Linked DNA regions of Homo sapiens. The protein of the gene in region 1 interacts with the protein of each later gene in a pairwise test. Each region holds a gene or a part of one and is shown on either strand. Other genes may lie near its edges.

Evidence for each region. The genes of interacting proteins can lie anywhere in the genome.
Region 2: the proteins of LZTS2 (region 1) and FGF12 interact in binary tests that used the Homo sapiens proteins (3 or more experiments, as listed by UniProt).

What each region holds. Positions count from the first base shown.
Region 1 is NC_000010.11:101,002,717-101,007,331, reverse strand, and holds part of LZTS2 (leucine zipper putative tumor suppressor 2), read right to left. Parts: coding exon 4,386-4,615; intron 3,826-4,385; coding exon 3,166-3,825; coding exon of another isoform or gene 3,064-3,165; exon of another isoform or gene 2,856-3,063; intron 1,875-2,855; coding exon 1,617-1,874; intron 848-1,616; coding exon 164-847; 3' UTR 1-163. UniProt on the Homo sapiens protein: Negative regulator of katanin-mediated microtubule severing and release from the centrosome. Required for central spindle formation and the completion of cytokinesis.
Region 2 is NC_000003.12:192,166,916-192,171,863, forward strand, and holds part of FGF12 (fibroblast growth factor 12), read right to left. Parts: intron 3,742-4,948; coding exon 3,543-3,741; intron 1-3,542. UniProt on the Homo sapiens protein: Involved in nervous system development and function. Involved in the positive regulation of voltage-gated sodium channel activity. Promotes neuronal excitability by elevating the voltage dependence of neuronal sodium channel SCN8A fast inactivation.

The DNA.
Region 1 (4,615 bases):
GCCACCCTGAGTTCTTGGCAGAAGCCCAGAGGCCTGGATCCTAGGAGACAAGTGGCTTTGGGGCCCTCAGCCTTTGGGGCCATCCGTGGACCCTGGGGCCTAAGTGGATCTGCAGCTGCTGCCCCTCTGGCAGAGCTCCCTACAGAGCTGGTTGCTGAGGGCCCTAGATCTCAGTAGCAGTGATCTCCTCCAGGCAGATGCAGGGGGCCTGCTCGGCCAGGCCCAGGTCAGCGAGCTCCCGGGCCTCCAGCTCCAGGCTGAGCTGCTGCAGCTCCTGCTCTAGCTGCCGGTTGCGCCGGTACATCTGGATGTAGTTGTGCTGCAGCTGCTTCTGGTAGCGGATCACCTGCTCCTTCTCTGCCTGCCAGGCCAGCCGCTCCCCCTCAAAGCTGTCCCGCTGCTCCTCACCCCGCCGCCGCTCCCGCTGCAGCTCCACCCGCAATCGCTCCACCTGGGCCCGCAAGCTGCCCCCAACCCCGGCTGCTGCCCGCTGCACTTTGGCCTCATCACTCTCTGCCAGGAGGAATGGGTCAGCGGTGGCAGGTGGCACAGGGGGCTCCCGGAGTCCGGCCGCCTCAGCATCCAACTGCCCAGCTTTCTCCCGCAGCTGCTCAGCTTCCTGGCGGTGTCGCTGCAGCTCCTGGGAACAGGCTTCCAGCTCCAGCTCCCGAGCTCGGGCGGCCTCCTGTAGACCCCGCGCACGGCCCTCACTGACCCGCAGCGTAGCACGGGCCTCCCGCAGCGCCACCCGCAGAGCCACCAGCTCGCTGCCCTTCTGCACCAGCTCTGCCTGAGACTCTTTCAGCTGCTGCTTCAGCAGGGAGATCTCGCCTGATTTCTGGCACACCTGGGGGTGGGAGGAAGTGGGGAAGGATGGTGAGACAGGTTCTCCTGGGGGGACAGGCCCTGCACATCATGCTGGGCATTTGGGAGAGAAGAGTCCATCTTTATCCCCATTTTACAGATGGAGACACTAAAGCAAGTCTAGTGACATGTCCAAGGTCATACAGTTAAGATGGGGCTTAAGTGGAAAGCAGACCTAGAACTTTTTGCTTCAAAGCTGGTGTCTTCAAAGCATCACAAGACACTGCAAGTACCACCAAGCCCTGGGGACTGGGGACTGGGGACTGGGTCCTGGCAAGTGCTGCAGGAGTGGGGACAATGGAGGGCAGTGCCCAGGTGCCTGCTGGAGAGGTACTACAGTGACCTAGTTAAGAGCTCAGATATTGGAGCCAGACTGCCTGGGTTCAGATTTGGGGCTTCAGCCTTTATGGGCCTCAGTTTACTCATCTCTAAAATGGGGAGACTAATGGTAGCCCCCTCAGTGTTGTTATAAGGATGAAATGATCTGTTCCATGTAACATGCTTAGAATAGTGCCTCCACACCACAAGCACCACATTCTTACTACTGGCTGGAAGCGTGGCTACGTGCCACTAGACAAGGCCAACAAGGAGACCCCCCTCCCAGAAAGGGACAGAGGGGAACCTCATCTCACGGAGGTGAGAAAGGGGAGGACCTCTGGGGGTGGCAGGCTGAGGGAGGGTGGGGCTGGGCCCCTTTTTCCAGGGTTTCTCCCTGTGTGACCCTGCTCCCTGCCCCTCCTGGTCTGGCCCACCTCCCACTTGGTCTCCTCAAGCCTCGGCCCGAGCTCCCGCTGCTCCCGCTCCAAGGTGGCGCAGCGCCGCTCCAGCTGTTCGCGCTCCTGCAGCAGCTGTGCGAAGTCGTCCTGCAATTGCCGCTTCTCCTGCTGCAGCTGGAACACCTGCAGCTGCAGCAGCTGTTGGGCCCGCTGTGCCCGCTGTGCCTGGGCCGCACAGTCCTCTCGCAGGGCCTCACGCTCTCGCTGCCAGTGCCGCTGCCGCTCCTCGTATGCCTGCAGGCGAGAAGAGAGACCTGGCTCCTGGGCAGTTTTCCCAACTCCCCACTCAGTGTCTGCTCTGGCAGCCCACTTCCGAGGGCTCAGGAAGGGTGGATTCCATTAAACAACAATAGTAATTGCAACAACAATACTAACTGCTTTTATGATGATCATAGAAACAAACACAAGAGCAAGCAGACCGGGCTCGGTGGCTCACGCGAGGTGGGTGGATCACTTAAGCTCCGGAGTTCGAGACCAGCCTAGGCAACACAGCAAAACCCTGCCTCTCCAAAGACCAAAAATTAGCTTGGTGTGGTGGCATGCGCCTGTAGTCTCAGCTACTTGGGAGGCTGGGGTGAGAGGACTGCTTGAGCCCAGGGGGTTGAGGCTACAGGGAGCTGAAATCACGCCACTGCTCTCTAGCCTGGGTGACAGAATGAGACCTTGTCTCAAAAAATAAAAAAAGCAAGCACTTGGCCGGGTGCAGTGGCTCACGCCTGTAATCCCAGCACTTTGGGAGGCCGAGGCAGGTGAATCACTTGAGGCCAGGGGTTCGCGACCAGCTTGGCCAACATGGTGGAAACCCTGTCTCTACTAAAAATAAAAAATAATAAAAAATTTTAAAAAAGGCAAGCATTTATATAGCACTTCCTAGGTACCAGGCATTAGTCTAATCACTTTACACCTTTTGCCTTATTTAATCCTCATAATAATCCTACGAAGCTAGAAATATCCCTATATAGATGAAGAAATAAAGGCTGAGTAAAGTTAAGCAACTTGCTCAAGCCCAAAAACTAGTATTTGGCAGTGGGAGGTTTGAATCCATGCACTCTGACTCCTTTCCACCCCACAAGTTTTGTTTTTTGTTTTGAGATAGAGTCTTGCTCTGTCGCCCAGGCTGGAGTGCAATGGTGGAATGTCAGTCCATTGTAACCTCCTCCTCCTGGGCTCCAGTGATCCGCCCACCTCAGCCTCCCAAGTAGCTGGGACTACAGGTACATGCCACCACACTTAGCTAATTTATTTTTAGTAGAAATGGGGTTTCCCCATGTTACCCAGGTTGGTCTCAAACTCCCGAGCTCAAGCAATCCGCCCACCTCGGCCTCCCAAAGTGCTGGGATTACAGATGTGAGCCACCACACCTGGCTACTCCACACATTAAACCAGACAACTGGTGGGGAGGGCAGGGGGGTCACAACTACAACTACCCAACCCCCGTTCCCTGCCAAAATGGAAATGCCGCTTGCATCCCAGGGCCTTGGGATGTCCTGCCATGCCCCTTCCCCATCATTGCCTCTGACCACACCTGGCACATGGTAGCCTCATTCTCGTCCAGACTGTCCCGCAGCTGCTGAAGCTCTGCCTCCCGGTCTCGGAGCTTTCCTTCCAGGACACAGTGCAGCAGGGCCTCATCCGAAGGAGGTGGAGGCGGGGGTGGTGGTGAGCGCTCCCCACAGGAGCTGCTGTCAGGGGAGGCCCGAGTACCACTGCCCAAAAGCCCCCCAGCCACACGGCCCCCTAGGGAGCCTGTGCTCTTGCTGGAGGAGGACCGGCCACTGTCTGAGTGGGAGGGCCCAGTAGGGACCCCTCGGGCTGGCCCAGGCAGTGCCCCTCGCCCAGAGCCATGGGAAGGCAGGTGCCCGCCTGGGGAGCTGGTGGTTGGCTCGGCACCTCCGGTGCTGTAGGTGGGCAGGCTGGACAGTGAGTTTCGGCCAGAGTCGGATAGCGTCCCTGATGGGCAGCCACTGGCCCAGCCACTAAATGCCAGGGGTTTGTCAGCAGCTGAAGAGGAGGAGGAAGAGGAGGAGGAGGAGGCAGGGCCCCCAAACAGCTGCGTCAGGCTGCCCTGGCTCCCAGACAGCCCGGTGGCCCGAGGACCCATGAAGCTAGGCAGGGACGGAGCCCCTCGAGGTTTGGGCAGCACTGGCTTGAAGGCTGTTGGGCGGATCAGGATCTTCTCCATGTTCTGAAATGAGGTGCCATGTGACACTGGAGATGAGCTGCCCAATCTTGCAGAGCCCTTATGACACTCCCTGCCCTCCCGTCTTGGGTCCCCAGTGCCCATATATTCATAACAATTGCGGCCACTGGTGGAGGTGGCCACCAGTGTCAGCTTTGTGTCAAGCAATTTGAAAAGTTTATCTCCATTATCTAAATATGATCACTATCCCCATATTACAGATGAGGAAATGGAGGCTCAGCAAGGTTAAAGGCCTTGCCCAAAGTCAAACGTATAACTGGTGCAGAATAACCAGAACGTAAGCAACTAGCACTTACTGCGTACATGCTACGTGCTAGGCACTATGCTATACATTATTTGACCTTCATGTCAGTTCTAGAAACTGAGGCTCAGGTTAAGTGACTTCCCTGAGGTCACACATCCAGAATGAGAGAGAGCTGGGATTAGGACCCAGGTCTGGTGAATCTGGAGCCCACACTCTTTCCTCTATATAAGCTTCTAAATTCCAGTTTCCCAAGCGAGGACTCCCGTTCTACCCAGGCCCACAAGGAAGAGCCGGTCCTCACCTTCTCCAGCTTTCCAGAGACAGGGATGAGCTTTGGTGGTGGGCCGCGGAGGTGGGCATTGTGTGCCCGCTGCTCTCGGGCATCCTCAACATCACTGCTTGGGCTGGGGGGTGACTCTGTCCGGAAGTCCTCATTGATGTAGGTGAAGCTGGTGACAGGGACAGCCTTCCTAGGGGGCACAGCTGGGCACAGCGGCTCCTGTGCCTCATAGCCACCCCGTAGCAGGCCAT
Region 2 (4,948 bases), on another chromosome or scaffold:
AAGTATTAGTGAATCTGATTTAGAATGCATTTTTTTTCCCAGAACAAAAAGAAAATCATTCTAAAGGATCAGTCAATAACATAAAGTAAAAACACGATAATCTACCAAAAGATGTCAATCAGAAAATTAGGAAATCAGAGATATTCTAAAATTAAGAGGATGGAAGCCTGAAGCAGAGTTTTTAGTGTCTCAATACCCATTGTGCCATAACCCCTAGTCACAGAACATTTATTTGGTATATGGCTATCAAAAAAAAAAAAAAAAAAAAGACTACATTCTTAGCTTCTTTACACCTAAGTGTGACTACCTGACTAGGTTGTGGCCAGTGCGATAAGTAGCATATGGCAGTTACCATGGACAACTTGGAAAGAAAACTGGCCCTGGCTTTTCCTTCTGTCTTCTTCACCTCTCCTCTGCCCTCTGGCTGGAATAAGATGCTGGTTGGATCATGGGCAGAAGGGCAGATCCAGGGCCAGCATGTGTGGTTGTGTTCCGGGTGCAGTGCACAGTTGTAAATAAGCCGTAGCAAAACACTGGGAGAGAGGTAGTAAAAGCTGGATGCAGCCAAGGCCCTACCAATTGGAAAAGCACAGTACCAGCTAGGATAGCTGGTCTCTAGATTTGTTTTGTGAGAGAATAAAAAACTTTATATGATTAAGCTGCTGTTAATATGAGTTTGTGTTGTGTGAAGACAACCTTAATTCTAATCCATATAGGAATGTCCAGTTGTACACGTACATGCTCATCCAGACCCAAGAGGAAACTTGATTAACCAAAGTACAGATAGCAGCTAAAATTAGGAGGGTAGGTTATAGGTATATATATATATATATATATATATATATATATATATAAAATTTTTTTTTTTTTTTTTTTTTGAGAAAGAATCTTGCTTTATCACCCAGGCTGGAGTGCAGTGGCGTGATCTCAGCTCACTGCAATCTCCACCTCCTTGATTCTCCTGCCTCAGTCTCCTGAGTAGCTGGGATTACCGGCACGTGCCACCACGCCCGGTTAATTTTTGTATTTTTAGTAGAGACGGGGTTTCACCATGTTGGTCAGGCTGATCTCAAACTCCTGACCTCGTGATCCGCCCACCTCGGTCTCCCAAAGTCCTGGGATTACAGGCGTGAGCCACCAAGCCTGGCCTAGGTGTATTTTTAAGTGGGGTCATGAGGGTGAAGTTGAATATAAAGGGCATTATCCGTAAAGGGAATAAACACAACACGTGGATTTCTTTTCTTCATACTTTCCTAAATTTTCCAAAATTGTTAATGACCTTGTACTACTTTTATAACAAGAAGAAAATCAATGTAAATGAACAAATAAAAATGATGCAATAATTAAGAGCATAATTCATCAAACATTTCATTTTTGAGAATCCATATATTTCCCTGTGAAAATATTACTTACTTCTCAGGTACCCTTTGCTTAACCCTAAGAAGCAGGCACTTTCCTGCCTTTATTCACACTGCACCTGGAATGTTTTTGTCTGCCTAATCCCTACCTCTCATCTCAAATTGCAGGAACCTGGCCTAGCCCTGAAGGTAAGTTTAAATATTAGCTTCTCAATGATATCTTACTTTTTGGGAAAATAATAGCCTTTTTCTCTGAGTCCCAATATAAATCCTATATATTGCATCACTTAACATTTTACTTTTGCTCTGAGTAAACATATGTCACACCTCTAAGAATATCATAAAGTTCTCTGGCGCATATATTCTTCTTTGTCTTTATAGTTTTCTATTCATTAATTCATTCACATGTTCACTTTTCAGACAACTGATTATCAAATATCTCTCTATGATATGCCAACTATTATAGAAGACAAAGGGAGATATGAAGAAAAATAAAACATGTTCTGTTCATTCAAAGAGTGAGCTAACCATGAATAAGAGGAGACAGAGTGGCATTGGGCAAATTTAATGTCATAATTTCTATGGGAGAGAAATGTATGCAATGACAAGCTGACCGAATGTTTAGTTCTACTTGAAGAAAGTCAAGAAGGCCATCATGGAAGTATTGACTCTTGAATTATTTTTTTCCAAAGACTAATAGACATTTTCCAGGCAGATGAGATAAATGGATAAAAACTAAAGGAGCAGGGGTGATGAACAAAATGAGCCCAATAAGAATGAAAATAGGCCAGGCATGGTGGCTCACGCTTGTAATCCCAGCACTTTGGGAGGCCGAGGTGGGCAGATAACCTGAGGTCAGGAGTTTGAGACCAGCCTGGCCAACATGGCGAAATCCTGTCTCTACTAAAAATACAAAAATTAGCCGGGTGTGGTGGTGTGTGCCTGTAATCCCAGCTACCCAGGAGGCTGAAGAAGGAGAATCGCTGGAACCCAGGGGGCAGAGGCTGCAGTGAGCCGAGATTGCACCACCGCACTCCAGCCTGGGTGACAGAGCAAGACTCCATCTCAAATAAATAAATAAATAAAGTGAAAATATACTGCAGGAAAGAAAAGTTCATTTCATGTGCTGAATACACAGCATGTGAAGAGGGTCCTGAGAGGGGCTAGGGGCTTTGAATATCACATTTCATCCAGTGCTTGGAACATTGGAAGATAGTATTGACTTAAATGTTTGCAGTCACCGTGCTATGTACTATGCACCAGGCATTGTGTACACTGATTGACTGACCATGCCATATGAGATATTCAGGGGACAGCAAGCTTGACTAAGCCACAGAGTTGCAATGCACTGCCTCAATTTTCTCATTTCCTCAGACGAGGATGCTGAGCCAATGTTTAAAGTGATTATAATGTGACTTTCAGAGGAGAAACAAGCTTACTCAGCCTGTAGTAGAAAGCTTGGCTGAATTCAGGAAATGTGGTTACCCAAATGATATGCTCTCATCCTAGCTAAGGAATTTCTGAGGGAACATAGCCTAGCTGCCAAAAATCGGTTTCCTCAGAAAAAAAAAAACAAAAAAGTTTATTCTAATGGTCAGTTTGAAATAAATGAACAGAGAATTAAATGATTACGAGAGAAAAGGTTATAGGCTCACCTGAGAAGGATACAGTGCAATACGGTAAATATAAAAGTATCATTTGTTTTTCAAGGGTGTATCTTGAGAAAGGAAATTATTAGGTTTAGAAAAGGAGGAAACTGCATACTAGATAGTAACTACCACTTCTTTTCTACTTTCAAAATTTTTCCGGCTTCTATATTCAGGCATTTTTTTTAAGTGCCAAGTATTTGTAATAGAATTTTCCTTTTTTTTTTTTTTAATAGGAAAAGATTCCCAGCTACTACGGAGGCTGAGGCAGGAGAATTGCTCGAATCCGGGAGGAGGTTGCAGTGAGCCGAGACTGAGCCATTGCATTCTAGTGTGGGCGACAGAGCAAGACTCTGCCTCAAAAGAAAAAAAAAAAAAAAAAGGAAGAGATACTATTGTGTTCTCTGAATATTTCTTTTGAATCTTTCTTCTGATCTGTTGCATTCCAGGCAAACTCTCTGGACCAAAAGGGCAAGAAGCAGAATTGATGTCAACACACAGATAAGGGTCCAACAAAGACAGTCAGTTGGTTTCATACCTTCAATAGGTTTCGGTACAAAATGTGATGAGGGCTTGGTTTTCTTCACTCTGTTCCCCTTCATAATTTGACCTTCTTTATTGAGTCCCAGAAACCAAGCTCGGCCTGATTCTTGCTGGCGGTACAGTGTGGAAGAATAGATCACATAGTAGTTTTCAAACACAGATTCCTTGAATTTGCATTCTGGAGTGAAAACATCCTGTAGGAAAAAAAAAAAAAGACACAAAAAAGAGAAATGATTTAAAGGTGAATCAGCAAATGCTTAAATCCAATAAGCTTGAAATCCATGTCCTCTGTTAAGAACAAATGAAAGGCAATGACACATAGTTTCTATTAGCCTTTGGTTACAAAGATTCATCATACAAAATCAAAAAACATGATTGCCTTTCTAGCCAACCTTCAGCCCAGAGATAATAACTTGCTCAGGCTTGAAGCTACGTTAAAATCATTCAGGACTGTGGCCAAGTCTGCGCTCCGATCCTAGCAATATGTTTTGTAAACTAAAGTGATTGGCCATTCCTCATTTACTCACCCTTAACATGTAAATAAGGAACTAAAATTTATCCTGGAAATCAAAATCAAATATAACCACAGCAAACACAGGCACACAAGGTGCTTTTGAAGAGACTATTCTGTATATACAAATGTATTACACAGCCACAGCTTGGTCAGGAAAATCACCACTTTTCCTAAAGTCAGTAACTTCCTCTCTAATTTCCTTAAAACATTTTTTTCCTTAGTAATCAAAATCTCAGGTAAAAAGCCCAGGAATAATAGAAAAAAATTACTATTATATTGAAGAAAATTACTAATAGTATTAATTCCTATTACTATTGACCTCAGTGAAACACAGAATGAGAGTTCTAGTCTCAGAAGAAACTGTAAGATCCTGTACTTCAACTCCAGCATTTGGTAAGTGAGAAAACCAAAAGGTCACGTGATTAATTCAAATACACATTTAAGAAACTACTGAGTCAATGCCAGAGCTCACATTCATTGCTTCACAATCACAGTCTCTCAGGCTCACCTTTTCTGCCTGAGTCTTGTTTAGTGACTTATAATGAGATTTAAAAATCAATACAATAAAATCATATCCTAACATGTCACATGAACAAAATGTATTGTGTGGAAGGAAGAAATTTCTCCCCTTCTGAGATCAGCAGAAGAAAAACAAATGCTATTGCATCTTCTTCAGCTGCAATTAAACAGGAGTCCTACATGTCAGACATATTCACCACAGTCACCATCTTCCTCTCCATGAACTGGAAGAATTTCAGTGTGAGACTCCCATGATTTAATGCAAGCAAACCTGGAATTAAGTTATTAATGAATATAGGAATATTAATGAATATAGGTTGGTTGAAGCCATGTCCTTGTAGGTGATACTCCCATGCCAATCTCCTTAT